Homo sapiens: one gene and its partners. The protein of the gene in region 6 purifies or fractionates together with the protein of the main gene of each other region. This does not show direct contact. Each region holds a gene or a part of one and is shown on either strand. Other genes may lie near its edges.

Region 1 (4,206 bases), on a different chromosome or scaffold from region 6:
CATCTCCCTCTGCCTCAGTTTTCTCATCCCTAAAATGGGGATGATCATAATGGTACCCACTTCATAGACCTGTACTGCGGATTATACAGACTAAAGCACTTTGGAATGGCTAGCTGCTCTCACCCTTCCTGTTACAGTATTGAGTTCCAACGTCTCCCTGTAGAATGCTGGCACTTCGTGGGCAGGCCCTGGTTTTGTTCCTCTCTGCACATAACCCCAGGATGTGCTGGTTGCACAATAAATGGTCCCTTACATTTGTTACTAGGAGCAACCCCCACCCCAGCTTTGGCCCACTCCCCCTCCTTCCAGCCTGTGCCCTCCTCATGGCCCCAGAGCTGGGGAGGAGAGATGCATCTCTCAGGATAATCTCCAGCAGCCAGGTGCTCCCCACCTCCACCCAGGTCAGCAATAAACACCAGAGTCCTTGGGTTGGGGGGCAGGGTGGCTCAGGAGCTCTCTAAGGGCCAGAGGTTTTGCCTTGGCCCTGACAACCCCACCCCCACCCCTCCAAGCCTGAGTCTCTTCAAACTCTGCTCCTCCTGGCCTAGCCAGGCCTCCTGGAGAGGGACGGCGAGATGATAAGCGCTGGGGCTGAGAACGGGGCATCCAGACCTTGGAGTTCGGTCCTAGCTGCCCTGGCCAAGGTTTTGTTTGTCTAGTCCCAAGAGGCAGGCCCTTGGAGTCCAGGGAAGAGAGAAGGAACCACCTGGGCAGACAGACCCAAGCCAAGGGGCCAGGTGTCGCCAGCGTCCCCAATCTCCAGTCTGGCTCTGGCCCGCATGGCAGCTGGAAGGGCCAGAGCTGGGTGGGTTCTGTCAATGCTTCTACGGGGTGTGTAGGGGGTTGGCAGGAGTCACAAATGTTGGCCTTAGCTGCAGGGCAAATGCAGATAGGACCTCCACGGAGTGCCTGTTCCCAACCCAAGGGCACAGCAGAGCTAGGAGAGAGGCCTCAGGGTCCAGGAGGGAGAGGAGGTGTTCAGGCCCAGCTTCCCGGAGAGAGTGTGACTACAGACTAAAAGGGTCAAGGGAACAGGCCCACTTGGCCTGAGGATGAGGGCGCTGGAAGAAGGGGATGGGAGATTGGGTGCTTTTTCTTGATGGGGAGGGGCGACTTGAAGACGGCAATCAAGACCTAGATGACGTGTTTGGTCTGGGGTGGAGTGAGGACGCCAAGAGGGAAAGGACGGCGCCCTGAAGAGACCAGCTCAGGCGAAAACAGGGCTCTGCCCAGGCGGGGACCCAGCTGGGTGGAGGGCGGAGGCAGGAACCCAGGAAGCCGACTGAGCAAAGACTGCGTCCAGGCCCCGCCCCCATGAGCCCGGCCACGCCCCCTGGAGCCCAGCCCCGCCTCCCGGCCGCCCGCGCGCAGGTAGGGAAGAGGCGGAGCGCCGCCGCCCCGCCCCCGAGGAGCCACCGCCCAGCCGCTCGCAGGCGCCGCACGGAGTTGCGTCCCGGGGACTTGGGGCCGCAGGGAGGTGAGCGCGGGGCGACGAGCGGGGCAGGACTCACGGCCGCCCAGCCGCAGGCGCCGGAAGGGTCCCGAGGTTGTGCCCGAGCCTGCCCTGGAGCGGTGGTGCGCGGCCAGGAAGGGTGCCCAGTGCCCGGTGCCCGCCCTGCGGAGCGCCTGGGTCCCACGTGGGCTCGGCTGGAGGCCCGGGCTGGCTCAGACGGCGCCGGCGGGGCCGCTGGACCCGGTCTGCTGGCCCCTAGGGCTCGGCTCGGACAGGACGCCTAAGGGGTCCCTGGGCGACGGGGCGCCAGATGTAGGGGCAAGACGATTGGGCAGAGATTTAAACCTCCGGAGGAAGAGAGGAGACTGCGCAGGGCAGTCCCGCCTGCGTCCCAGAAGTGCCTGCAGTTCAGACCCTTCTCTCCCCTCCACTTTCTCCCGGGTGAGCACCGGGCGGACCGGGGCCGAAGTTTGTTGGTTGAGCCAGCCAAGGTGGAAACAGGTGCGGGGGTGGGGATGAGGGACTCACACAGCAGGGCTGGACCGGAGCTCAGAAATTGGACCCAGGAGTCCTGACTTCTGGATGGAGGGGCTGGGGAAGGTTGGCCCTGGGCTTGCCTTTTACCTGTTTGGCCCCTCGGATGTTCCCCCAGGGCATTGGGATAGAGACGGATAAGTTCCCTAGGGTACAGACCCCGCCCCACTCCCACGCCAGGGCGCAAAGGAAGCCTAGGTTTTGGCCCTGCCCCATTCCATGAAAGATTAACGGAGGGGGCTCTAGGGTTGGAGCTACTGAGAGGGTGGCAGCGGGTGTGTCTGAGGAGCAGAAGGCGGTGGGGAGCTGACCCCACTTGGGGAGAGGCTGCTGTTGCCTGGGCGGCTGGCATCAGGCCCCCAGTGTGTGCCATTTGCTGGTAATATAATGAGACCAGCATCTGCCTTATTCGACCCTCACTGTCCGTAGGGCAGGCAGTGGAAAGGGAGGCGTGTTTTAGAGCTGTGGTTCTCAACCAGGGGCGACTTTGCCTGCCATGGGATATTTGGCAATGTTGGAGTCATTTTGGGTGTCACACACTTGGGAGGGGAAGTGAGTGTTGTTGTTACTGGCAGGTAGTGGGTAGAGGCCAGGGACGCTACCAGACATCTTCAGGGCACGGAACAGCCCACATAACGAGGAATTATCCAGCCCAAGGTGTTGGGCTGTGCTGAGGCTGAGAAACCCTGCGCAGCAGCTGGTCCATCAGGTTCCTTCTCAATGATGCTCCCTCACTGGGGAAACTACCTCAGTTTTCCAGAGTGGTTAGGGGAGGAACTTGGAATAAACCTGAATGAGATGAGGGGTAAGGCAGTGTGAGGGCACTTATTCCCCTCACAAGAGTCTTCCTTTGGTGCCATGAGACACCGCCTTTCCCAATCTCCACTGGCCCTGCAGGAAGCTGGTCTAGGTGCTGTGGGGGAGAGGTTGGGAACAGAGGACCCCCTTGCAGCCCAGGCCTGGGGTGCTTAACCCCAGGGCAATCTCCCAGGAAGGCTGGGCTGAGGCAGCCCTTGAGCTCAAATATCCCTGGGCTGGGAGGGTGGGCAGAGGGCGAGCTCTCTTCCCATAGATTTTCCCAAAGCTGGATTGCTGAAGCTGGCATGGTTGCCTGATACCATGTGACCTGCTGGAATTTTCCCTTCTGAACTCACACCTAACTCCTCCAATTATGTACACCTTTTGAAAGTGACATCCAAGGAGTATCAGGGCTCCTAATTCCTGGGGGGTCCCCAGGCTGCTTTTGTCCTGCAATAAAGAGGGCACCCTGGGTTAGCTGACGAGCCCTGGAGTGGGCCCAGCTGCTGATGGGGTGGAGGCACCCCTGCCCATGGTGTTAGCTGAGCAGAGGTGAGAGATGGGAGACATCAAAGCACAGGCCAGGTGGCCCCCCAGTAGGGATGACTCAGAGTTGTTTGTATTGGGCTGGAGGAATGTACTTCCAGTTTTCTGGCAACAAGGAGGGGTGGCTGGCACGGTGGGAGAGGATCGGATGAAGCAGCCACGTCCATGCCCAGGAGCTGGGGCCACCTCGCTGCCCTCCCTCCCTGTTTTCTTGCAGTAGCCATTATACCCATCCTGTTCACTTCTGGACCCAGCCTTCTTGCCTGGGAACCCTGGTGGAGGTTTCGAGCTTGGGTTCTTTTTGTTGGTGTTGGTGGCTTTTGTTTTTTTTGTTTTGTTTTGTTTTTGTTTTTGTTTTTTTGGTCTCTTGACTGTAAAAGGCTGAAGTGAAACTCCCACCTTTTCATTTGCACAAAAAACAAAAGTGGCCTCCATTGCTGTGAGCCTCTCAAGGGACAGGGCTGAGCACCCAGGCTTGTACAAAGTTGTTCAGGAAGTCGGCAGTGGAGCTCGGGTGTGAACCCAGTTGCCCACCCTCAGGCCCCACCCAAGAGCCCCACGAACAAACCCTCAGTGACTCCTACCTGTCTGTACCTGGTGTAACCACACACACACACAGACACACACAAACAGACACACAGAGACACACACAAACACACAGACACACACAGACTCACACACACACACACACACACACACACACACACACTCTCTTTCTCTCCAGCCCAGGAGGGGGACTTTTGTTCCTATAAGAGGAGGAATAAATCACACTACAAATGCTTTGGGTGACGCACTTGGGGCCCGAGTCCTGCTCTGGGGTCAGTGGTGCTGTTTTTCCTGTGGCCTCAGCTCTGGATACTGTGGTGGCCTCTCCA
Region 2 (4,035 bases), on a different chromosome or scaffold from region 6:
AAAGGCTGCATCTTAGGGAGGTCAGAATACAGCTCCGAGAGCAGGGCGCAGAGGCTCACGCCTGCAATTCCAGCACTTTGGGAGGCCGAGGAGGGCGGATCCGATGAGGTCAGCAGTTCGGACCAGCCTTGACCAATACGTTGGAAACCCCGTCTCTACTAAAAATACAAAAAGTAACCAGGGGTAGTATTGCACGCCTATAATCCCACCTACTAGGGAGGCTGAGGCAGGAGAATTGCTTGAACCCAGGGGGTGGAGGTTGCAGTGAGCAGAGATCTCGCCACTGCACTCCAGCCTGGGCAACAGAACGAGACTCCGTCTCAAAAAAAAAAAAAAAAAAAGCGCGATAGGCGATTACTGGTCAGTGGTCAATATAGGTCAAGGGACGAGACAGGAGAGAGCTTTCTAAGGTTGTGGGCCTTTTTATTTTTTATTTTTTTGAGGCGTAGTCTCGCTGTGTCGCCCAGGCTGGAGTGCAATGGTGCGATCTAGGCTCACTGCAATCTCCGCCTCCTGGGTTCAACCAATTCTCCTGCCTCAGCCTCCCCAGTAGCTGGGATTACAGGCGCCCGCCCTCACGCCTGGCTAATTTTTTGTATTTTTAGTAGAGACGGGGTTTCACCATGTTCGCCTGGCTAGTCTTTTTTTTTTTTAGACGGAGTCTCACTCTGTCACCCAGGCTAGAGTGCAGTGGCGCTATCTCAGCTCACTGCAACCTCTGCCTCCTGGATTCAAGTGATTCTCCTACTTCAGCCTCTCGAGTAGCTGGGACTACAGGTGCCCGCCACCCCGCCCGGCTAATTTCTGTATTTTTAGTAGAGACGGGGTTTCACCATATTGGCCAGGCTGGTCTCGAACTCCTGACTTTGTGATCCGCCCGCCTCAGCCTCCCAAAGGGCTGGGATTATAGGCGTGAGCCACGGCGCCCGGCATCCAGGCTAGTCTTGAACTCCTGACCTCAAGTGATCCGTCCGCCTGGGCCTCCCAAAGTGCTGGGATTACAGGCGTGAGCCACCGCGCCCGGCCAGGTTGTGGGTTTTAATGGGACCATCTCACTGCCTACCGTTTCCTTTTTCCGTCCGAACAGAAGGGGCCTGAGCAGTGAACTGACAGTGGCAACGCCGGGTGAGGCGGGATGGAGGAGTTTACGAGCCTGGGTGACGCCCTGTTCCGCGTCCTGGCCCCGCCCCTCCCGGCAGAGCCCCTTGGCGCGTGACACAGGCCCCGCCCTTGCTGTACGCCATCAGCCGGCGCCGCGCCGCCGGGTGTTACTTTGCCCCGCCGGCGGGGCGGTCAGCCTCCTGTCACCGCCTGTTCCGGCTATGGTCCCGTCCGGTGTTCTGTAAGTTGGCAACCTAGGCTCCTGACGCGACCCTGGTCCTGATGGCGGCGGCGACGGCCGCGGCAGCCCTGGCGGCGGCCGATCCCCCTCCCGCAATGCCGCAGGCGGCAGGGGCCGGAGGGCCCACAACCCGCAGAGACTTCTACTGGCTGCGCTCCTTTCTGGCCGGAGGTGGGTCCATGCCACGAAGAGCCAGCCGCGCTCTGAGTGGCGGGGGCAGGACTGTGGGCAAGTGGGATGCAAGCGGCCTCTATGACATTCCTGGACTCTGGCTGCTTCAATGTTCTGTTAGATGTCTGCCCTGACCTGCTGTAACCTCTTTCTAGTAATCACTTGACTAATGACAGCTAGGTTATGGGGAGTGGGACCTTTGGCACTCCGGCAGAGGCTGGGGAGGTGGAAGGTCTGAATCAGGCACCCATTCTTCAGGGCTGGATAACAGGGAAAAGAGGAGGATCCCTTACAGAGACCCTGGGGTTTTAGTGAGACATGCTGGGCACTCCTTTCTTTTATAAAAACCGTGAGTGACCCAGTGTAGACTTGGATTTTGCTGTTTGCTTAAAGGAAAACAAATATTGGAGATCAGCTTTTTAATGACTACTGGAAAATTGTGCAAACTGTCTACAGCCAAAACTGGTTCCAGTGATTCTAGTAAACTGTGACACAGTACTTGACAAGCCCTATTATTGATGTGACTTTGGGATCAAAAAGTTCATATTGTCTCTTAGGAATTTCCTGGGCCTTCAAGCTCCACCCTTCCTTAATTACTTCTCTGGGTTGTGTAGGGGTGGGTTGCCCCTCCACACCTGTGGGTGTTTCTCGTAAGGTGGAACGAGAGACTTAGGAAAGAAAAAGACACAGAGACAAAGTATAGAGACAGAAATAAGGGGACCCGGGGAACCAGCGTTCAGCATATGGAGGATCCCGCCAGCCTCTGAGTTCCCTTAGTATTTATTGATCATTTGTGGGTGTTTCTCGAAGAGGGGGATGTGTCAGGGTCACAAGACAATTGTGGGGAGAGGGTCAGCAGACAAACACGTGAACAAAGGTCTTTGCGTCATAGACAATGTAAAGGATTAAGTGCTGTGCTCTTAGATATGCATACACATAAACATCTCAATGCTTTACAAAGCAGTATTGCTGCCCGCAGGTCCCACCTCCAGCCCTAAGGCGGTTTTTCCCTATCTCAGTAGATGGAGCATACAATCGCGTTTTATACCGAGACATTCCATTGCCCAGGGACAGGCAGGAGACAGATGCCTTCCTCTTGTCTCAACTGCAAGAGGCATGCCTTCCTCTTATACTAATCCTCCTCAGCACAGACCCTTTACGGGTGTCGGGCTGGGGGACGTTCAGGTCTTTCCCTTCCCACGAGGCCGTATTTCAGACTATCACATGGGGAGAAACCTTGGACAATACCTGGCTTTCCTAGGCAGAGGTCCCTGCGGCCTTCCGCAGTTTTTGTGTCCCTGGGTACTTGAGATTAGGGAGTGGTGATGACTCTTAAGGAGCATGCTGCCTTCAAGCATCTGTTTAACAAAGCACATCTTGCACCGCCCTTAATCCATTCAACTCTGTGACACAGCACATGTTTCAGAGAGCACGGGGTTGGGGGTAAGGTTATAGATTAACAGAATCTCAAGGCAGAAGAATTTTTCTTAGTACAGAACAAAATGGAGTCTCCTATGTCTACTTCTTTCTACACAGACACAGTAACAATCTGATCTCTCTTGCTTTTCCCCACAGGTTGTCATTACTTAATTATTTAAGATTCAAAAATTTAAAAATTCCACATTGAAGTTGTGTGCAGTGGCTCACTACTGTAGTCCCAGTTACTAGGGAAGCTGAGGCAGGAAGACTGCTTGAGTCCAGGAGATCGAGGCTCCAGTAAGCCATGATCACACCACTACCCTCCAGCCTGAGCTACAGAGAGAGACCCTCTCCTAAAAGAAGAAAAAAACAAAAACAAACAATAAAAATTCGCTGGGCAGGGTGGCTCACGCCTGTAATCCCAGCACTTTGGGAGACTAAGGTGGGCAGATCACTTGAAGTCAGGAGTTTGAGACCAGCCTGGCCAACATGGTGAAACCCTGTCTCTACTAAAACTACAAAAATTTGTCAGGCGTGGTGGCACTCGCCTGTAATCCCAGCTACTCAGGAGGCTTAAGGCAGGAGAGTCGCCTAAATCACTGTGGAGGTTGCAGTGAGCCGAGATCCTGCCATTGCACTCCAGTCTGGGTGACAGAGACACTCCATCTCAAAAACAAAATAAAATAAAACAAAAAAAACCTCACATTATGAGGATTTGTAGAAAGATAATATCTGAAGACTGCAGCAGTATTAAGTTTTTTTTGTTGTTGTTGTTGTTTTGAGACAGAGTCTCACTCCCTCACCCAGGCAGGAGTGCAGTGGCGTGATCTTGGCTCACTGCAACCTCTGCTTCCTGGGTTCAAGTGATTCTGCTGACCCAGCTTCCCAAGTAGCTGGGATTACAGGGGAATGCCACCATGCCTGGCTAATTTTTTTTCTTTTTCTTTTTTGAGATGGAGTCTCACTCTGTCGGCCAGGCTGGAGTGCAGCGGCACGATCTCTGCTCACTGCAACCTCCGTATCCGGGTTCAAGTGATTTACCTGCTTCTGCCTCCCAAGTAGCTGGGATTACAGGCGTGCACCACCATGCCCAGTTAATTTTT
Region 3 (4,120 bases), on a different chromosome or scaffold from region 6:
CTTTGTAAAATGAAGATGATAATCCTTGTCTGTCTTACCTGTCAAAACTGCAGTGAAGATTAAATAATTAAATGTGGGAAAGTCGGCCGGGCACGGTGGCTCATGCCTGTAATCCCAGCATTTTGGGAGGCCGAGGCGGATGGATCACCTGAGGTCAGGAGTTCAAGACCAGCCTGGCCAACATGGCTTTACTAAATATACAAAAATTAGCCAGACGTGGTGACACATGCCTGTAACCTCAGCTACTCAGGAGGCTGAGGCAGGAGAATCACTTGAACCTGGGAGGTGGAGGTTGCAGTGAGCCGAGACCTCACCACTGCACTCCAGTCTGAGTGACAGAGTGAGACTCCATCTCAATAAAAAGAAAGGCGGCGGGGAGGGGGAGTCCTTTTAAATGTTAAAAGGTACTATACAGGCTGGGCACGGTGGCTCACACCTATGATCCCTGCACTTTGGGAGGCCTGAGTGGGAGAATGGCTTGAGCCCAGGAGTTCAGACCAGCGTGGGTGACAGAGCCAGACCCTGTCTAAAACAACAACGTACTATCTGAATTAAGTACTTAAATTGAGAAAACCACCTGGAGCTGTGACTTTGTCATTTTAGTGTCTGAATCCTTTAAGAATCTGACTAAATCCTTGGCCCCATACCACCTTCTGCCTATAATTTGGGGGGATTTTTAACTCCTTCTATCTAATCGCATTCTATGTGAAGGCATAAAATGAGAAGGCATATAATAGAAAAATATTCAGTATATAGTATATGAACCCTGAAAGGCCTTTTTTGGCTGGGTGCAGTGGCTCACGCCTATAATCCCAACACTTTGGGAGGCCCAGGCAGGAGGATCGTTGGAGCCCAGGAGTTCAAGACCAGCCTGGGCAACGCAGGGAGACCCCTGTCTCTACCAACAACAACAAAAAAAAGTTAGCCAGGTGTAGTAGTGTGTGCCTGTAGTCCAAGCTTGGGAGGCTAAGGAAGACGGGTGGCTTGAACCCTGGAGTTCAAGACTACAGTCAGCTGTCATTATGCCACTGCACCTCAGCCTGAGGTCTCGACAGGAAAAAAAAAAAGTAAAAAATTTGCTGGGTGTGGTGGCTCATGCCTGTAATCCCAGCACTTTGTGAGGGTGAGGCAGAAAAATGACTTGAGCCCAGGAGTTCAAGACCAGCCTGGGCAACATAGTGAGACCCTGTCTTTAAAAAAAAAAGAAGAAGAAGAAGAAGAAAAATTGTACCCAGCCACACCAATATTAACCTTTGGTGTCTACAATCGATGTCACTTGATCTATCGTAGCATCTACTTATTCATCGCCAATAGCCAGTTTTGTTTTTAAAAAGGCAGAAGAAAAGCACAAAAATCATGACAGCAGGATTGATCCCAGGTAAGACCGCAGGCTAGAGTGAGACGGACAGCTTGCTCAGGCCCCTCGCAGTTCAGTCTCAGCAGGTGAGAAGCAGGACTTGGCAGAGCCCACAGGAGAGCAGGGCCTGGAAAGGCCGTTCAACTTCCTGCACATCCGACTGTGGTCCTTCAACTTGGGAGAAAGTGAGTGTGATTCCAGCAAGACCGGTGGGGAAAAAAAAGGCTTGAAATAATAAAAGCACCACCATTGTCCAGGTCTAACTACTGTACAAAGTCGACTATTCTGGTCTTAATTTATGATTTGTTTCACTGGAACTGCAGATAGGTGCACATTTCCTGACCTGCCTCTGGACTGACCTCTGATAGACGTACAAGTCCGTGTTCTAAGCGCTGGGAACCTCTCAATCACCTTTAGCAAATCTGCAGGAAAAGCAAGAGCGGCGTTTGCGTGGAAGGGGGTGGTGGGTTGGTTCCTTTCCATGGAGGGGGCTCTGCTAACCACACTGGACGTCTGTTAGCCAGTGATGCTCCAGAGTGAGAACCCAGTGAAGCCAACTGCAAGAATCAAGCCACACTCCCAGTCGTAAATGCTTCCACGCTTATCTCTTCCATGAAGGACCTGGATCCCTGGCTCACACCACCTGAAATCAGACTCCGACTCTGTCGTCCTCCCTCATTTCCGTGGACTTTCTCCTAAGCTGGGGGTGCCCGAAGACTCCGGAGAGGAAGAAGGAGCCCATTGTGGTGCCAGCTTTTCCCATTAGTCAGCTTTCTGAGCGCGTGTGCTGCGAGAGCCAGAGCCTGCGAGCTACTGAAATGTGACATTTGCAACAAGGCCCCGGCCCGGGCTCTTACCTGCCGGTGATCACGTCGTCGCAGGAGCGAATGATGACGATCCCCGAGCCGGTGGCCAGCACGGCGTGCACCGAGGAAACCAGCCTAGCGCGGGCGGAGAGAACAGCGCGCGCGCTCAGTCCGGTCCGAGGACCGCAGGGAGCCCGGCCCGGCCCTTCGGCCTGACTCTCCCCAGCCGCAGGCAGATGTGGGGAGCGGGCTCCGGAGGCTCATCGGCCATTCCCGCCCGCCCCGGCCCCGCTCCCGCCAGGGGAGGACGCGGAGGGGCTTCGGAAACTCGGGCCGCCGGGACGCGGAGGGAGCAGCCCCCGGGCTTCCTGCCGCCCCCCTTTTCCGCCCTGGGCCCCGCGGCCGGGTGGGGTGCGGTGGGCAGCGCCCCGGGCCTCGGGGGGCGTCTCGGCGGCGCCGGTACCTGGTGCTGATCATCACGCAGTCGGTGCGGCTCCATCCGGGCTGGGAGCGGCGCAGCGCCCAGGTGCAGAGCGCGAAGAGCCCCGGGAAGAAGAGCGCGCCCCCGGCCAGCGTCAGCAGCATCGGGGCTGCGGGTCCGGCCGCCTCGCTGGCGCCGCGTGGCTGGGTTCGGCTCGGCGCGCCCCGGCCCGGCCGCGCGATTTCAACCCTCCGCCCCCGTCCCCGTCCCGCCTCCGCCCGGCGCTGGCCCCGATCCCGCGGCGCGGCTCTGCGCGTGACCAGGCCCGGCGGCTGCGATAGGGCGGGGCGGGGTCTCTCGCGGTCCCTGGGCCCGGAGGGTTCCCCGGCGTCCCCGGCGGGCGGGTGGGCGGGGGCGGAGGCGGGGACCGAGGCGGCGGCTGTGGCCGGGGCCGCGGCGCGCGCGCGTTCCGAGTCCGCCGCTCCCTCCCGAGCGGCCGCGGGGCCCAGGCGGAGGCGGGAAGGGCCGCGGCTCCCGGCTTCTGTTCCGTCAGCGGACGCGCCCCTCCCCGACCTGCTCTTCTCGCCGGCCCCGGGCGAAGGGGCGGGGTGGGCGCGGGGCCGAGGAAGCCAGGTAGGAACCCCCTCCGGGGTGGGGCGAGGCCCGCGGGGAAGGAAGGAGGGAGGCGGCGTGTGGCCCTGGGTTCGCGGGCCCCGTCCACCAAGCCCTGGTGCTTCTCGGTGGGAGGCCTCAGGATGTGGCCTCTCCCCGCACGGCCGAGATGCTTTTCCCGGTGCCGCCAGCGGCTGCAGCCGCTCCGGGGTGGCCCTCAGGAAGCGTGAGGTCCGGGGGCCTCCAGCAGCCCCTCTCCACCTGCACCAGGAGGCGGACTGTGGAGGCTGCAGGCTCTTACTGCCTCTCGGCTTTGGATCTATCCGGAGACACCATCCAGAGGCGTAGGGACTGTGGTGTTGTTCACAACGTGTCGTTATTTAAAAGTATCGGGGTCGGGCGCGCCTGTAACCCCAGCACTTGGGGAGGCCGAGGCGGGCAGATCACTTGACGTCAGGAGTTCGAGACCAGCCTGACCACCACGGTGAAACCCCGTCTCTACTAAAAATACAAAATTAGCCAGGTGTGGTGGTGCCTGTCTGTAGTCCCAGCTACTCTGGAGGCTGAGGCAGGAGAATCGCTTGAACCTGGGAGGCAGAGGTTGCAGTGAGCCGAGATCACGCCACTGCACTCCAGCCTGGGCCACAGAGCAGGACTCTGTCTCAAAAAACAAACAAACAAACAAACAAAAAAACAGTTATCGGGACAGGCGTCTAAACTTGAATGAATTGGAATACATTTCATTTGTGCCAAGCACCAATCACATGGATGAAGACAGGAATTTCAGTATCATTGGCTTCTGTCCTTTAGGAACTACCAGCTTTATTTTGCTTTGGTCTGTATCTTCCTCAGCTAACAAACGTAGGGGGTGGGAAATACAGTTCATTTATGTTACTACAAATGAAAGGTATGACGGGTCTCCTC
Region 4 (4,074 bases), on a different chromosome or scaffold from region 6:
CCTCCAGGAGGTAGGTACCCACTGGAATTTGGATAAAAGAACCATGTGACCCTAAACCTGGAAACGTGGCACACGGTGTGGCCTTGCCTGCCTGCAGGCCCTAAAGAAGGAAGCTGGGCCCGGCCTAAGGCTGATCTGACTCCTACAGCGAAGAGAAAGCGCCTGGCCCGTCCCTGCTCCCAGGCTCCAACCTGACAGTCTGGACCTCCAGAGGCGCTGGGGAAGGGCTGGTGGGAAGTCACCGAATGGGACGCTCCACAGGGACCAGGGCAGTCCCTTGCCACTGCGAATGTCAGGGACTCCTGGGGGGCCGAGTCAGACTCGGCTCTCATTCATCCCCGCAGCCCATGGATACCCTGGTGACCCAGAGCCAAGCACCCTCCGACTTCAGCGCCTGAGCGCGGCCCCTACCGAGCCCCTCCGGTCTCGCCCCGTCCGGCCGCCGCTGACGGAGGCGCTGCGATCTGGCCCGACTCCACTCTGCAGCCCAGTCCAGGAACCTCCCTCTCTCCACAACCTTCCGCGGCTCCCGCGACCCGCAGTCCTCGGGAAGGAGCTGTGGCCCGAAGGCCTGCTGCGCCCTTTGCCCATGGCCCCTTTCCCTTTTAAGGTTCCCTGCTCTCCGCCCAAATCCCAGCCTCAGGCTCCGCAGGAAGCGCCCGTGCGCGTCCGACCCCCAGAACCCGGCGGGTTCGGCCAGGAGTCCGGAAGCCCCGGAGGCCACCGCCGCCGCGGGCGCGCAGGCGGGACGGGCAGAGGCTCCCCACGGGCGATTCCCGCTCGCGGAGTTTCGCAACTAGCGGCGTCCCAGTCTGCGGGCCTCGGAACGTCCCGGCGCTCCACGGCCGTTTTCGCGGCAGGGTCCGCACGGCACAGACTAGGGCGCTGAGGTTCTGCGGCGGCGCCGGACTCCGAACCCAGGGTCCGGTTCCCGACCCGGTCCAGACCAGAGCCACCCCGCGTACTCCGGGTGGGGGAGTCCTCGGCTCAACCCCGCCACCCCGCGCGTCCCCTCCCGCCGGACCTGCGCACCCAGCGCGCTCTTTGTCTGAGGCGTCCCCGCGCCCCGCCCGCGCGCCCACCACGTCCCCCGCGCCCCGCCTCCCGCGCACGCCCGGCCAATGAGGCGCGGCGGCGAAGCGCAGTGCCCGGGGTGTTGTCCGCGCCGTGCCCGCCCATTGGCCTCACTCGGCGCCCCCACCCGGGCCCTGCCGGCAGGCACGAGGGGCGGGGCGCGCGGCCCGAGGTGAGGGACCGCGGGCCGGAGGGGATCCAGCGAGTCAGCTGCCGCCGAGGGACCAGCGCGGGTCTAGCTGCTGCCGCCATCCCCACCATCCCTGACCGCGCCTGCCCGGGCTCCGCGCCAGGAGGAGCGGCCAGGCCCAGCCCCGGCACCGCGCGCTCGGGGACCCCGACGGCGCCCAGCCCGGCGAGGGGCCTCAGGGGGAGGACGAGGAGGAAAGGCGGCCTCGCCGGGGACCCGGCCATGGCGCTGGACTTCTTGGCTGGATGCGCGGGGGGTAAGGAGGCGGCGGGCCGGGCCGGGCCGGGGCGAGGCGTCCGGGGAGGGAGGTCGGCCCACCAGCACGCCCTGGCCTCGCGGCTTCCCGCTGGCGGGGGTCGCCGCGTCTGTGAATGGGGACCACAGTTCTCTTGCCTCGGGCGGGTCTCGTGGGCGTAAATTGACTTCAGGCCCGGGCTGTCCGCGAGGGCAGGTGTCTTTATTCTCTCTGGGCACGCTCGGACGGGAGGTCTGGGGCGCCGGGGCAGCACCGTGGCTGAGCGGAGGCCAGGACTGCCGGGAGGATGCCCCACTGCCCCCCGCGCCGAGGTCCCGGGCTCATCTCCTTCCCCTCCCCCATCCCCATCCGTTGCGCACTGGGAGCAGGGTCCCCTCCCCCGGCCGTATATTTCGGGACTGACTCCACCCCGTCCCGCGCAGCCATCCAGCGGGGTTGGGGCTACGGAGCCGACCCCCTACTCGGCTGGCCTTGGAGGGCACTGAACCACTCTGGCGCCGAGTCACGCCTTGGAACGCCGCCCCTTCCTACGCGGTTTTGTGAGCTGTTGGGGGCGGAAGGGGGGTGGTGGGTGGGTCGGGCGAGCCGGTGTGGGGCACCTTCTCCGAGGCGCGGTCGCGGCTCTGGGGTTCCTCCCATGCAGTTGTCCCCGGGAGGGCCCGGGCGGGCGTGCAGTCCAGGCTCTCCCATGCCCCGACCGTGGGCGTCGGGCACGGCACTTCCCTGTTGGGCCTCTGGCTTCTCTGCTTTTACCTTGAGGGTTAATTTATTCACCAGGATTTAGATGTCGGGGGCGGGGGAGGGTGGTTGGCGGCGGGAGTTGCTGAGAGGGCCGGCCGCTTATCCCTGTTTGGTCCCACTTTTCTCCCAGCACCTGCCCTTGTTCACCGCCTCTTCATCTACTTGGATTTGGCTCGAATAAACCCTCAGCTCCCGGCCAGCGCTGAGAGCCCTGGCGGAAGAGTGGGTAGCGGTGGCCTTAAGTATTAAATCTGTGGCGTCGGAGCCTGCTTCTTGGGGGAGAGACTCGTTGAAAAGGGAGTGTGTTGGGGAGGTGTTGTGCGCTGAGGGGAGTTAGAACTTCCCGGTCGGTTACCCAGTGGGAAGCTGCGGGGCACAAAGCCCAGAATTTGCTGCTAATCGCTGGGTGCCCTGGAGACAGAGGGGGCGTGTCCTCTGCGGATTCCATTCTCACCTTCCCCTCCCGCTTCTGATCTCGCTGTTTGCTCCACCCTTGCTCCCCACCCACTATCAGCTCCAGCGGGTGGGGGTGAAGGGCTGTCCCCAGGCCAACACCTCCTTCCAGGCTTTGGGGAGTGGGGATTCTTTCCCCGGATGGGCAGAGTTCCTTCTGCAGTGGCGCTACCGTCCGTGCTGCCCTCCTGGAAACACCGGGGTTTGGGGCAGGAACACTTCACCTGAAAGCAGGCCTGCTTGGCGCCTCCCGGCACATCTGTGGTCTCCTCTGCACGTCGCTCGCGCAGCCTCCTTGCCTGGAATGTCCTTCGCTGCCCATCCTCATAGGCCCACCTGGGAGAGATCATATCCATGCCCCCTGCCCCAGGTTTGTGGGTCAAGGACTGGCACTGTCTGGTGCTGTAGCACTGGGGCACAGGCCACCCCCCTGCCCCCAGGCCCTGCTTTTCGTGCAACCCCCAGGCACATAATGGCCACCCAGCTAAGGCTCTACAAGCGTAAGCCTGAGCCTCCCAGGTGGACAAGGACAGAAGTCACCTGGGGGCTCACTCCTGGTCTCATCGGAGAAACCTAGGCCCAGAGAGGTGGGGGTACTAAAGCAAAGTCACACCACATGCTCCTCTGATGGCCAGGGTGAGCCTGCAGTCCTCTCCTCTCCCCCTTACTCCAGGGTGCTGGGGTGGCCCCTCAGGACAGTGAACTGACTGTGTCCCAGGCTCCAGGTCCCTGGCACAGCTGGGGTCACACTGACAGCCTGCCCAGAGGCACCCCACCTTGGGACCCGTACCCCAGCAGCCCCTGCCTGGCTCCTTCTTGGGGTGCCCCCAACCTACAGGCTCAGGGCAGATAATGCCAGTGCTTCTCCTTGGTGGCTGGGGAGGGGGACTGTCCACCCCCTACTATTCGCCTAGTGTGGGTCACGTGTTTTAACTTCTCAGGGAGGCGGGGCCAGCATCTTGACTGACAGCATCCTTGAGGCCTTGCATGGTGGAAGGTTTGGAATGCCTCCCCCTCTCCCCTACTGGGGGATCAACCCAAATCTTGAGGCCACATAGACACTGGGCTCTGGATGGACAGAAGCAGGCGCAGAGAGAAAAGCTCAGCTAGGGGTGGGAGAACCCGGGAGGAGAGGTAACCCCAAGAGGGAAGGGTGCCTCTTCCACTACCTCTGCTACCAGCCATCCCCAGGACAGTGGTTCCTCCCCACCCCGCCCAGCCCTGAGGACTACTGGTTGGGGATTGCCTCCGGAGCCCAGCTTAGGGAGGACAGTAGACAGTAGGCTTTGGAGTTGGGAGACAGGGTTCCGCTTCTGCTGGTGTGACTGGAGGCCTCCTCGTGCGCTCAGAAAGGTGGTGA
Region 5 (3,991 bases), on a different chromosome or scaffold from region 6:
GCTAGGGCTGTGGCCTCAAACCGAATGGGCTCCTGGGTGAACCTGCTGCGACCTGAGGGGGGTCCCTACAACCTGTGCGAGCCTCAGCTACTGCACCTGTACCTGGGAGGTGCTACTGTCAATCTATCGGTTACGGCAAGGGGCGGTGGAGTGATTCCTCTTGCTGGCCAATTTCACTTCAGTTTGCACCTGGCACAATCAACACTGGCAGAATTAACAAAACTAGACAAATATAGCCTCATGATCATTCATGCCTAGCTCTCGGTCAGTATTCAACTTCTTTCTTGTTCATGGTGTGTTACCCTAGGCAAGTCACTTCCCCTCCCTGGGTCTCCATCATCTCCTCAGTAAACTGGGAGCACAGAATAAAGCGCGTGGGAGGATTAAAGGGGACACTTTGGTCGCCCAACACTTGTTCACTGCATAACGATAATTCCAAGAGCGACATCACAGTAAAGACCCAGGCGCCGATCTAAGCGCGTTTCAGCCTCACGCGACGCCTACGAGGTTGAGCTGCGTCATCGGCCCCATTTCGTAGCGGAGGAAAGCGAGGCACTGGGCGGTCAGGCCGCTTGCCGGAGGTCGCCCAGCGTCCCAGCCGAGGACGCGGAACTCAGGGCCGGTCGGGTGTCAGCGCTCCGGAGCATGCGCAGAGGCAGCACGCCATCGGGGTCTTCAGGGGCCCGCGCAGTTCCTGGCGGGGTCGAACCCGAACTCACCCCGAGGGTCCTAACTCCCCACCTCCGCTGCCCATCCTCTCCAGCCCTATGGCGTCTACAAATCCAGACCTGCGGAAGCCCCAACTCACCCAGCGCCTCGCCCCGAGGAATCCGCCATTTTCCCGCCTTCCACCTCAAGGCCCGACCCGCCGGCTTTTCAAAGCCGGACCCGCCCCCTTGCTTGCGGGTCGGACCATTTGTGGAGACGCAGGAGGGGTGGCTGCGAGGCGTGAGGCAGCGCCGGCTAAGTGTGGAGAGCGCGGCCCCAGACGCGCGCTTCGCCTGTCCTCCCCTCGCACTTGGTCTCGCCCACCATCGGCGGTAGTGGGTAGGGGCGGTGGGTGGGACCTGATCTGTCGGACAGTAGGGGCGGGGCTTTTCGCGATGCCCCGCCCCTAGGAGCGCTGGCGTCACGCCCCCGTCCCCGCCTCTCCGGAACCCGGAAGCGGGAGCGCGCGGGGGAGCGGCGGGCGCGGCGGGGCGGAGCGGCTCGAGCAGCGGCGGGCTGGCAGGCGGTCGTCCGGCCGGGGACCCGGCCCGGGACCGGCGGCGCGCGGCGGCCGAGGCCAGGTGAGTACCAGGCAGCCTCGGGTTGGCGACTCGAGCTCGAAGCCTGCCTTTGGGGGCTGCGCAGAAGAGGGACGGAGCTGAGGGCTGATGGGGGACGCGACGGCAGGGGTCGAGGGGGCGGGAACGAGCCTGGGGGTCTTGGAGAGATTGCTGGGGATGAGGTGGAAGCGAGACGGTGAAGGAGAAAGTGGATGGGGATGGAGCTGGTGAGGGAGTTCGAGGGCGTGGGGGGGGTGAGTCTTGTGGCTTTGAGCAGCTTCTCTGAAGAGGACGTGGCTTAAGTGGTAATTGGGGGGTCGCAGGAAACGGCGTTGTGGGGAGGCACGGAGGCGGGAACGAGAGGCCCAGGCTGGGGGAGTGGGCAAGGCCAGGGGCGGGACAGCCGGGGTGCGGTTGAGGGGAAGGGGTGCGAGACCGATCTGGGGACGTCTGCCCGCGCGATTGAAGGAAGGGTGTCTGAGAAGAGGGCGGCGCCTGGCCCCCAGTGGGCGCTCAGTAAATGCGGGGGGTTCTGAACTAACTGATGCGGCAGCCGGCTATTGGGAAGCGGGGAAATGGGAGCTGGAAGGGAAGTAAACGGAGTAGAAGTCACGGTAAGAACTGAGGGTAGGCTTAGGGAGGGAGGGCCCGGAGAGGAGGGAAGAGAAGGAAGGGGTTAGAGTGGCCCCGTGCAGATAGATGTTGAGATGCAGCCCCTGGAGATTCCGTCCCCCCACCCTCCCCTCTTGATTCGTGTCCCTCCTGACTTCACACTTAACAGCTGGGTGACCTGGGACGAGTCCCAACACCCTCTGTGCCAGTGTCCTCGTCTTGGAAACTTCACCACCCTCCCCTTAAGACAGGACTAGCAGGATTCTGGGATTCCCTGGATCCAAGGAAGGGACCTCAGGGCCGGTTGTGGGGCCGGAACTGTGTTTCAGGAGGGAGTGTGCATGCACCCTCATGTACAGGACTGTCGCCACCTCCGCAGAGCTGCATCCTTGGACTTAAATGGGTAAAACGACATACAGGAAATCTGTCCCCCGGTTGCTCTGAGCTCAGCCCTGGAGAGGCACGACAGCCACGAGCCCTCCTTTCTTTCCTGGGCACCCTGGAGGCCAGGGGTCTTTAAGGGATGGCTTCTCTGCCTCTTTGTCTGAGGTGGGAGCCCGTGGGGACACTTTCCAGCCAGAGAGTCCCAACTCGGTTTGTTTTTTGATGTTGGAGTCTTCAGAATCTTAAGGTGTCCAGGAGCAGCCGGAGGTGACCTGGGCTACAGGAAAGTTATTCACATCTGACAGGCCTGGCTCTTGTGGCCCTGGCAGGGACTTTGTGCAGGGTGCTTTTGATTGGCATTCATTTCTCCCCTTTCCCAACTGTAGGGATCTTTATCTGGGATCTGCCAGAAGGGCTGGGGAACCCCAGCTTATGTTTAGTTTATAGCTCATTCAGGAGATGAACCCGGATAGCTGGAATATAAAGAGGGCCACAGAAAGATAAGCACCCCCTTCACTTCCAGAATATCCTGGCCTTTAGGAAAGGTGGCTTTGGCCTGGCTTGCCCCAGGACATGCAGTGACAGCCCACAGTCATGCCTCCTGCAAACATTGAACTGTAGGCTTGCACTGGCCTACAGAACAGGACCGGGATCTTCTGATCCCGCAGCCCTGCAATCGCCTCTTCCCTGCCGCTAGAGAATGGCCAAGCAGGGTCTTGTGGGGGGAGCACTGTGTTGGAGATCCTGGCTTTGGTCAAGTCTCTGTGCCTGTTTCTGACCTCTCACCTGCAAAATGAATGAATTGACCTCCATCAGCGTTTTTCAACCTTGAAACCCAACTCTTCTCATCACCGTCTTGTCTCCAGTCCATGTCCCCCAGCTCCCGGCCTTGAACTCCTCACAGCACCCCCACTCTCCATTCCTGGCTGCGATGATCCTACTTTTATTCCGTTTTCCATTCGACAGTTTGTATCCAAAAATGATTTTTTTTCAACCGCTTCTTCATCGTCCAAATAGAAAATTGCGGTGTTGAAGGTGCTTTTGCACATTGCACCTATTCCCAAAGCTTTGGAAACTGCAAATTTCTGGAAATCCCGAGGCAGTACCGTCCCTCGGGTCCAGTCTGGTGACTCAGTGGAGCAGGTAGAGACGTGGGAATCTCCCCTTTCTGTTTGGCTGTAGGATTCGTTATTCTCTCCCCACATGGACTTGTTAACTTGCTGCTTCCCATTCCTCATCTCTTCCAAATGGTGTGTCTTGGGTGGGCCTAGATTTCAGTTAGGCAAGGGTTGATTGTGCCAGACACTTGGTAGATTCCTGGGGACAGAGGTGAATCCTTATGACCCAGAGGACGGACACGCTAATGCCCGCCCCCGACAACTTTGCACTTCCTCTTCAGAAAGAATGGAGTTCAAGCTGGGCCGCGGTGGCTCAGGCCTGTAATCCCTTTGGGAGGCCAAGGTGGGTGGATCACAAGGTCAGGAGTTCAAGACCAGCCTGACCAATATGGAGAAACCCTGTCTCCACTAAAAATACAAAAATTAGCCCGGCGTGGTGATGTGCGCCTGTAGTCCCAGCTACTCTGGAGGCTGAGACAGGAGAATTGCTTGAACCCAGGAGGCGGAGTTTGCAGCCAGCCAAGATTGCGCCATTGCACTCCAGTCTGGGTGACAGAGCAAGATGCCCTCAAAAATAATAATAATTAAAAAAAAGAATGGAATTCAGAT
Region 6 (2,913 bases):
ACTTTTGCATGTGGTTCAATAGTCAGGGAGAAGTTAGAAAAAAAGTAATGGAAGAATAATCATGAATTTGTATGCTTCTATACATTAACTAGCTCTTTCTCCCTTTTTCCAGAGTTCTCTTGGAACGGTTGATTGTAAATAGGCCACATCCTTGGGGTCTTCTTATTACCTTCATTGAGCTGATTAAAAACCCAGCGTTTAAGTTCTGGAACCATGAATTTGTACACTGTGCCCCAGAAATCGAAAAGTGAGTTCAAAGTAATTTTTAATTGTCTAGGAATGAGACTGGAGACTGAAAACCATCTGTCTCTAGGTTGGGTCAGCTGAATGAGATGCAAGGTATTGTTAGGCCTACTCTTTAATCAGAGATTTGTAACTGTCTTCATCCTTCAGGTTATTCCAGTCGGTCGCACAGTGCTGCATGGGACAGAAGCAGGCCCAGCAAGTAATGGAAGGGACAGGTGCCAGTTAGACGAAACTGCATCTCTGTTGTACGTGTCAGTCTAGAGGTCTCACTGCACCGAGTTCATAAACTGACTGAAGAATCCTTTCAGCTCTTCCTGACTTTCCCAGCCCTTTGGTTTGTGGGTATCTGCCCCAACTACTGTTGGGATCAGCCTCCTGTCTTATGTGGGCACGTTCCAAAGTTTAAATGCATTTTTTTGACTCTTGGCCAAAATTTAGAAGATGCTGTGAATATCATTTTGAACTTGTGTAAATACATGAAAGAGAAAACCTTTGTCTGGAACTTCTTGGCTTTGTGCAAGCTGTGTCCAAGGCAAGTACATAAACTGGTACCTTGTAATGAAGAGGCAGCTGATGCCATGCACTTGTCTGAGGGCATAGCTCCATGTCTTCTGACATTCCTGGTGTCCCAAAGAATAGCAAAAAGCCAGTTTGAATATTATGTAACTTATTTTTTTAATGTGGACAGGGGACCTTGAAAATCACTAAGTTATTAAAAATGTGGATGTGCTAGAATTGGATATGTCCAGGAACATGGGAAGGGCTCACTATTGGAATCCCATGAGTTTCCATTTTGTCTCTACCCAAACGTATTCCAAAGCTGACTGCATTTGTACCATCTTATTTCTTTTGGGGATTATACACCTCAGCCGCCTGAGATGGGGGTCAGCTCTTTATATAAAGGGAAACCAGACCAGGCCTAAAGCCCACCCCTACCCTCACCCCCCCAATCCTCTCCTGAAACTTAAAAACAGTGGGAATATAGGAAAGGGAACCAAATCTCATTAATTAATTGTTCTCCCCCATTACCCCACTGAATGAATGGCCATACAGGCTAAGCTGAATAATGACAAAGTTGAAAGGACCAATACAGCCCCTTTTATAAGGATTTTGAATGTTTTGCAAATGTATTGGTCCCTGTGTTGTATTTTGTAGCCTTTTCCTGGGCTTCAGCTCCCCTACTTCTTGTATGTGTATGCATACTGTAGCTAACCATTAAAGTCATGACACACACATGAGTCCACTGTGCCTTTCTCAGTAGCAGCAGCCAGTGCTGGTGGTGAGGAGGAAAAGTGGACAATCCAGCCCTGCAGACCTTGGGGCCATGGGGAACCACCAACTAACTTCTTGCTGAATGATTGATTGATTGATTGATAGGTCATTCCTACTACTAAGCTGGCATGTTTAAGGAAATTGTATTTTTCTTCCTATTTATTTCAACACTGGACAAATGCTGGAGCAGGTTTATCTGGTTAAGCTGAGTTTAAAATACCCAGTTTTAATATCCTTTTCCCCCAGGTATTTTTTTTTTTTTTTTAAAGAAAATGAGTAGATACGTATTTAAAAACTTAACCCACTTAAAATTTGCCTTACCTTTCATGACTGTCAAGTTTTATGGCCAGAGAGGACAAAACAGTTCAAAATTAAATAATTGAAGTCCTCCTTGAGTGATGTCTTAGGGTTTATTCCCTGAGAGGTGGTTTGTGCCATCTAGACTGAACTTTGGGTAACTATCGAGTACCAGTTACACAGCTTATTAAATCCAGAGTCTTTTCAATAAAGGTTAAGTGACTTCCTCAAACTAGACTTAGATTTAAACCAGGGGTCTACCTCCAAAGTCTATTATTAAATGCTGAAACACAACAAGACTTACTTATTACTACCGTATGTCCACTGGCTTTGGTTAAAACTGAGAACAAAACATCTGTAACATGCTTTAAGTAACAATTAGCAGTGATTCCCAAGTCTGCTGTTCTCAATCCTAAAACACATCACCCTTACCTGAGTTAATCCTAGCACACCAACTTTGCTACTTTTCCTCTTGGTGTTTAGTAAGCAAAAGAAAGATCCAAATTTTCCTCTTTTTCAAACATCAATGAGTATTAGCTTAGAATAAAGTTCTTATTGCTGTTCCTTCAGGGAACAGGGAAACTGCTAACTTGTCAGCTCCAACAACTGATGTAAGATCATCTTCTGACCATAGCGAACCTGTAAGGCTTGCTGTTCCCTCCAGCTGAGTTTCGCATAGACTTCCTTATTACTGAGTAAACCTTGGTCAGTTTTTAAGTCTGTGGCATAGGTCTGCAAAGTCAGTAGAACACTGTTTTGAAGCAGCTGTCTCCACGATGCTTTGAGCTTGGGAATATTTGTGATCGTCAGGCTGCCCTCTTCCCTTTTATCATCTCCCCCTCCATCCTGGTCTTTAAGCTCTCTGAACTCCTCAGCAGGCATGCACAGTACCTAGAAGCAACCACAGAGCTCTTTAATTAGATGTACTGCTTTTGTACTTCTGAAATGACTCAGGAGACTAAACTCATCTTAGCATTTATTAAAAATCCCACATTTCCTCTCTCATCTTCTAGCTATTTTGCTTTAAATACTTAGATTATCAGCATTAAATGGCCATTTTCAGCCGTTTACCTTTAGTGTGGTGGTCAGCTCCTCTTC
Region 7 (3,500 bases), on a different chromosome or scaffold from region 6:
TAGTGTTGTTATTTTAAAGTGAATATTTTTAAATTTCTCATTGTTAGTTTCTTTCTTTCTTTTTCTTCTTTTTTTTTTTTCGAGATGGAGTCTCGCTCTGTTGCCCAGGCTGGAGTGCCGTGGTGCCATCTCAGCTCACTGCAAGCTCCGCCTCCCAGGTTCACGCCACTCTCCTGCCTCAGCCTCCCGAGTAGCTGGGACTACAGGCGCCCGCCACCATGCCCGGCTAATTTTTTGTATTTTTAGTAGATACCAGGTCTCACCATGTTAGCCAGGATGGTCTCGATCTCCTGACCTCGTGATCCGCCTGCCCCAGCCTTCCAAAGTGCTGGGATTACAGGCGTGAGCCACCGCACCCAACCACGCCCGGCTAATTTTTTGTATTTTTAGTAGAGACGGGGTTTTACCATGTTAGCCAGGATGGTCTCGATCTCCTGACCTCATGATCCACCCGCCTCGGCCTCCCAAAGTGCGGCGATTACAGGCGTGAGCCACCACGCCTGGTCCTCAGTGTTATTTTCTAATCTGGTAAATGTTGACAGATTTAACTCAAAAACAAAGGCTCTTGGGGATGTGCAATAATTTGAGGGACTTGCAATAATTTTCAAGAGTGTAAAGGAGTCCTGAGACCAAAGGGTTTGAGAACCGGTGGTCCCACTTACAGGGGCCTTGTCTTGAGACACAGCAGGAAAGAGGGGTGTTAACTGGTGGTGTCAGCTCTGTCTCCAGTGGGTGATTTTTGCCTCTCTGAGCCTCAGTTGTCTTACCTGCAAAACGGAGTGAGAAATGGTACTTCCTACCTTGTTGGTGCTCAAGAAAGTGTTCACACAACACGAATCCCCATCCTAACAGAATCCTGGCCAGGAGCCCAAGTTATTTCCTGTAATCTACGTTTGAAACGAATGCGAGGAAGCAAAGTGTGCTAAGTGATGCGGTTTCAAAAGCTCCTCTTAAACCCCAGCATTTGTCTTCATGAATATTGCTTTAAAGTCGGCCTGACTGGTTTTCTCCCTCTGCTCCGTGCATGGCCCAGAGCTGATCAAGGAAGTGCTGTCTCTGGAGGAGAAGATCCACGACTTGGCCCTGGAGCTCTACACGCAGAGATCGCTGCTGGTGATGGGGCGGGGCTACAACTATGCCACCTGCCTGGAAGGAGCCCTGGTGAGCCCCCACCCCCAGCCCCCACCCCCACGGAGGACAGGCACAGGAGACCCTGAGGAGCCAGCGGGAAGGAGGGCAGGGCGTTGGGCTTGGGGAGGGCCGGGCCTAAGGACCCCTTGGCCAGTCCTGTGAGCCTGCGCTGAGCACCAGCTCTCCACCAGGTTTCTAGCCCTGGGCACACAGAGATGGGTGAGGCAGGTGCCTGCCCCCAGGGATCTCCCAATCTACTGAGGAGAAAGGGACAGGGCGCCTGGGGTGTGCCCCTCCGGCTGTCCAGGCACTGCCAGGGTCCACTTGGAACAGCTCACTCAGACCTCATGAGCTGCTTCTGAGAGGTTGGCGGTTGCTATTCACCCTCATTCAGGAGGAAACAAAGCCTCTGAAAGCTTAAGTATCTCACTCAAGATGACGTAGGGGACCCGAATCAGACCTGAGTCCATGGGGCCTTCGCTTTTTTCCACCAAAATTGAGGGGTGGGTTCTCCGCAGAGTTTCCTTGTTACCCCTCAAACTTCCAAGGGGAGTTTGAGATCCTGCAGGAATTAACTTCGAAGGCCTTGCTTTTTCAAAAATTGGTGACAGGCCATTTGCCCCCTGCAGCATTAAAGATCCACGCCAGGAAAGAGAAAGCTGATGGGGCAGGGACAGGGTGCCAGGGCCACAGGGCTGCCCAGAGGGTGGGCAGAGAGCCGTGCAGGGTCCTGCATCTCGGACTTGCCCTTTCCTCGCTGTCAGCATGCCATGCACGGAGCAGATGCTCAGCCCAGGTGACGGGGACAGTGCTCCAGCTGAGGCTGCACTGGCCACCAAGACGAGGGCATTAACCGTGGCCCAGCTGGGCTGCCATCCTCTCCCATCTCCTCCCCACCACCCCCATTTGAAAGACAATGCTAGGCTGGCACAGTGGTCCACGCCTGTAATCCCAGCACTTTGGGAGGCCAAGGCAGTCAGATCATTTGAGGTCAGGAGTTCGAGACCAGCCTGGACAACATGGTAAAAGCCCATCTCTACCAAAAATTCAAAAACTAGCTGGGCGTGGTGGTGCACGCCTGTAATCCCAGCTACATGGGAGGCTGAGGCAGGAGAATCGCTTGAATCCAAGAGGAGGAGGTTGCAGTGAGCCAAGATCATGCCACTGCACTCCAGCCTGGGAGACAGAACGAGACTCCCATCTCAACGAAAAAAAAAAAAAAGAAAGAAAGAAAAAAAAAAGAAAGACAATGCCAGTTACAAGTGGTTACCGGAAACATTCAGAGTTGATTTCCTTGGTCTTGGTGGGGAGTGCAGGGCTGTCCTCACTGAGCTCCATCTCCTGCACCTGCCCCCTGGAGATTCTGACTCCTGTTAAAGAACAGGCAGGTGCTGCTTCTTGGAGTGCAGTAGAGGCAAGGCCTGGGGTGCACTGTCAGTCCCCAGATGACTCTGCGTCATGGGTGGGGGCTGAGCTGCGGTGGCTGAACGTGCTGGCGGGAGATGCACATTGCAGCTATGCCTCCGCATGAGTCTGCTGAAGGAAGAAGCGTTTAGGTGGCTGCTGGCACGAGCCCATGGTCCTCTGGTCACTGGGAGGCCGGCACTGCAGCTGTCTGCGCCTCCAGACTGGAGCCGCACTCCTTACAGTGTGGCCCTGACCTAAATCAGCAGTGCTAGCGGGGAGTCGAGAGATGATTTATTTGACTGTCTCACCATTTCAATGACGTGGATTTGTGGTAACTGAATAGAGATGGATCTACCTGAACACAGGAAAAAAATTAATTCAAATAACACCCCAGTTTGTGTGATTTTGCTTGGAACCACTCTTTAGAAGTTATTAATGGGCAAATGCTTAATCAGATAATTAACTGAAGGTGTAGCTAAGCTGAATACGATGCTGTCGTTATACACGTGGCTGGCTAGGGAGGAGCAGGGGGTGAGCTAGGCTGACTCCGACTTGTTTGTCCTAAGGGGTGGCTGTGCGTGGGACTGGAGAGAGACAACAGCAGTGCCCGGGGCTGGTGTGGGGACACAGAGGTTGTGTCCCGGGCTGGTGCATGCTCTGGATGGTAGCCAGGCCTCTCCCCAGGCCCTTGCTGGGTGTCCTCAGTGCTGTCAAGCACTCCAGGCATCTGTCTGCCTTGCAACCCTTGGCTCTCTGCCTTCCAGAGTCATCCTTCCCCTGGTTCCCCTTCTTCCCCTCTGGCTGATCTGCTCCAGCCCCATCTGCCCAGTGTGACTCTGATCTCACCTCCTGTTTCCAGAAAATTAAAGAGATAACCTACATGCACTCAGAAGGCATCCTGGCTGGGGAGCTGAAGCACGGGCCCCTGGCACTGATTGACAAGCAGATGCCCGTCATCATGG

Evidence for each region.
Region 1: the proteins of SETD6 (region 6) and RHBDF2 purify together in Homo sapiens (co-immunoprecipitation; one large-scale study listed by IntAct). This does not show direct contact.
Region 2: the proteins of SETD6 (region 6) and SLC25A16 purify together in Homo sapiens (co-immunoprecipitation; one large-scale study listed by IntAct). This does not show direct contact.
Region 3: the proteins of SETD6 (region 6) and TLCD3A purify together in Homo sapiens (co-immunoprecipitation; one large-scale study listed by IntAct). This does not show direct contact.
Region 4: the proteins of SETD6 (region 6) and SLC25A29 purify together in Homo sapiens (co-immunoprecipitation; one large-scale study listed by IntAct). This does not show direct contact.
Region 5: the proteins of SETD6 (region 6) and MYO9B purify together in Homo sapiens (co-immunoprecipitation; one large-scale study listed by IntAct). This does not show direct contact.
Region 7: the proteins of SETD6 (region 6) and GFPT2 purify together in Homo sapiens (co-immunoprecipitation; one large-scale study listed by IntAct). This does not show direct contact.

Annotation. Positions count from the first base shown.
Region 1 is NC_000017.11:76,498,624-76,502,829, reverse strand, and holds the start of RHBDF2 (inactive rhomboid protein 2), read left to right. Parts: upstream 1-1,406; 5' UTR 1,407-1,477; exon of another isoform or gene 1,478-1,954; intron 1,955-4,206. UniProt on the Homo sapiens protein: Regulates ADAM17 protease, a sheddase of the epidermal growth factor (EGF) receptor ligands and TNF, thereby plays a role in sleep, cell survival, proliferation, migration and inflammation. Does not exhibit any protease activity on its own.
Region 2 is NC_000010.11:68,524,724-68,528,758, reverse strand, and holds the start of SLC25A16 (solute carrier family 25 member 16), read left to right. Parts: upstream 1-1,235; 5' UTR 1,236-1,383; coding exon 1,384-1,513; intron 1,514-4,035. UniProt on the Homo sapiens protein: May be involved in the transport of coenzyme A in the mitochondrial matrix. Very little is known about the physiological function of this carrier.
Region 3 is NC_000017.11:731,276-735,395, reverse strand, and holds the start of TLCD3A (TLC domain-containing protein 3A), read right to left. Parts: upstream 2,801-4,120; 5' UTR 2,749-2,800; coding exon 2,627-2,748; intron 2,299-2,626; coding exon 2,215-2,298; intron 1-2,214.
Region 4 is NC_000014.9:100,303,645-100,307,718, reverse strand, and holds the start of SLC25A29 (mitochondrial basic amino acids transporter), read left to right. Parts: upstream 1-1,274; 5' UTR 1,275-1,486; coding exon 1,487-1,520; intron 1,521-1,942; coding exon of another isoform or gene 1,943-2,059; intron 2,060-2,110; exon of another isoform or gene 2,111-3,068; coding exon of another isoform or gene 3,069-3,084; exon of another isoform or gene 3,085-3,701; coding exon of another isoform or gene 3,702-3,711; intron 3,712-4,074. UniProt on the Homo sapiens protein: Mitochondrial transporter of arginine, lysine, homoarginine, methylarginine and, to a much lesser extent, ornithine and histidine. Does not transport carnitine nor acylcarnitines. Functions by both counter-exchange and uniport mechanisms.
Region 5 is NC_000019.10:17,074,586-17,078,576, forward strand, and holds the start of MYO9B (unconventional myosin-IXb), read left to right. Parts: upstream 1-1,191; 5' UTR 1,192-1,289; intron 1,290-3,991. Other genes in the region: HAUS8 (HAUS augmin-like complex subunit 8), read right to left, coding at 809-837. UniProt on the Homo sapiens protein: Myosins are actin-based motor molecules with ATPase activity. Unconventional myosins serve in intracellular movements. Binds actin with high affinity both in the absence and presence of ATP and its mechanochemical activity is inhibited by calcium ions.
Region 6 is NC_000016.10:58,518,517-58,521,429, reverse strand, and holds part of SETD6 (N-lysine methyltransferase SETD6), read right to left. Parts: coding exon 2,887-2,913; intron 2,707-2,886; coding exon 2,401-2,706; 3' UTR 473-2,400; coding exon of another isoform or gene 394-472; 3' UTR 248-393; coding exon of another isoform or gene 113-247; 3' UTR 1-112. Other genes in the region: CNOT1 (CCR4-NOT transcription complex subunit 1), read left to right, coding at 113-247, 394-472. UniProt on the Homo sapiens protein: Protein-lysine N-methyltransferase. Monomethylates 'Lys-310' of the RELA subunit of NF-kappa-B complex, leading to down-regulation of NF-kappa-B transcription factor activity. Monomethylates 'Lys-8' of H2AZ (H2AZK8me1).
Region 7 is NC_000005.10:180,304,837-180,308,336, reverse strand, and holds part of GFPT2 (glutamine--fructose-6-phosphate aminotransferase [isomerizing] 2), read left to right. Parts: intron 1-1,033; coding exon 1,034-1,161; intron 1,162-3,397; coding exon 3,398-3,500. UniProt on the Homo sapiens protein: Controls the flux of glucose into the hexosamine pathway. Most likely involved in regulating the availability of precursors for N- and O-linked glycosylation of proteins.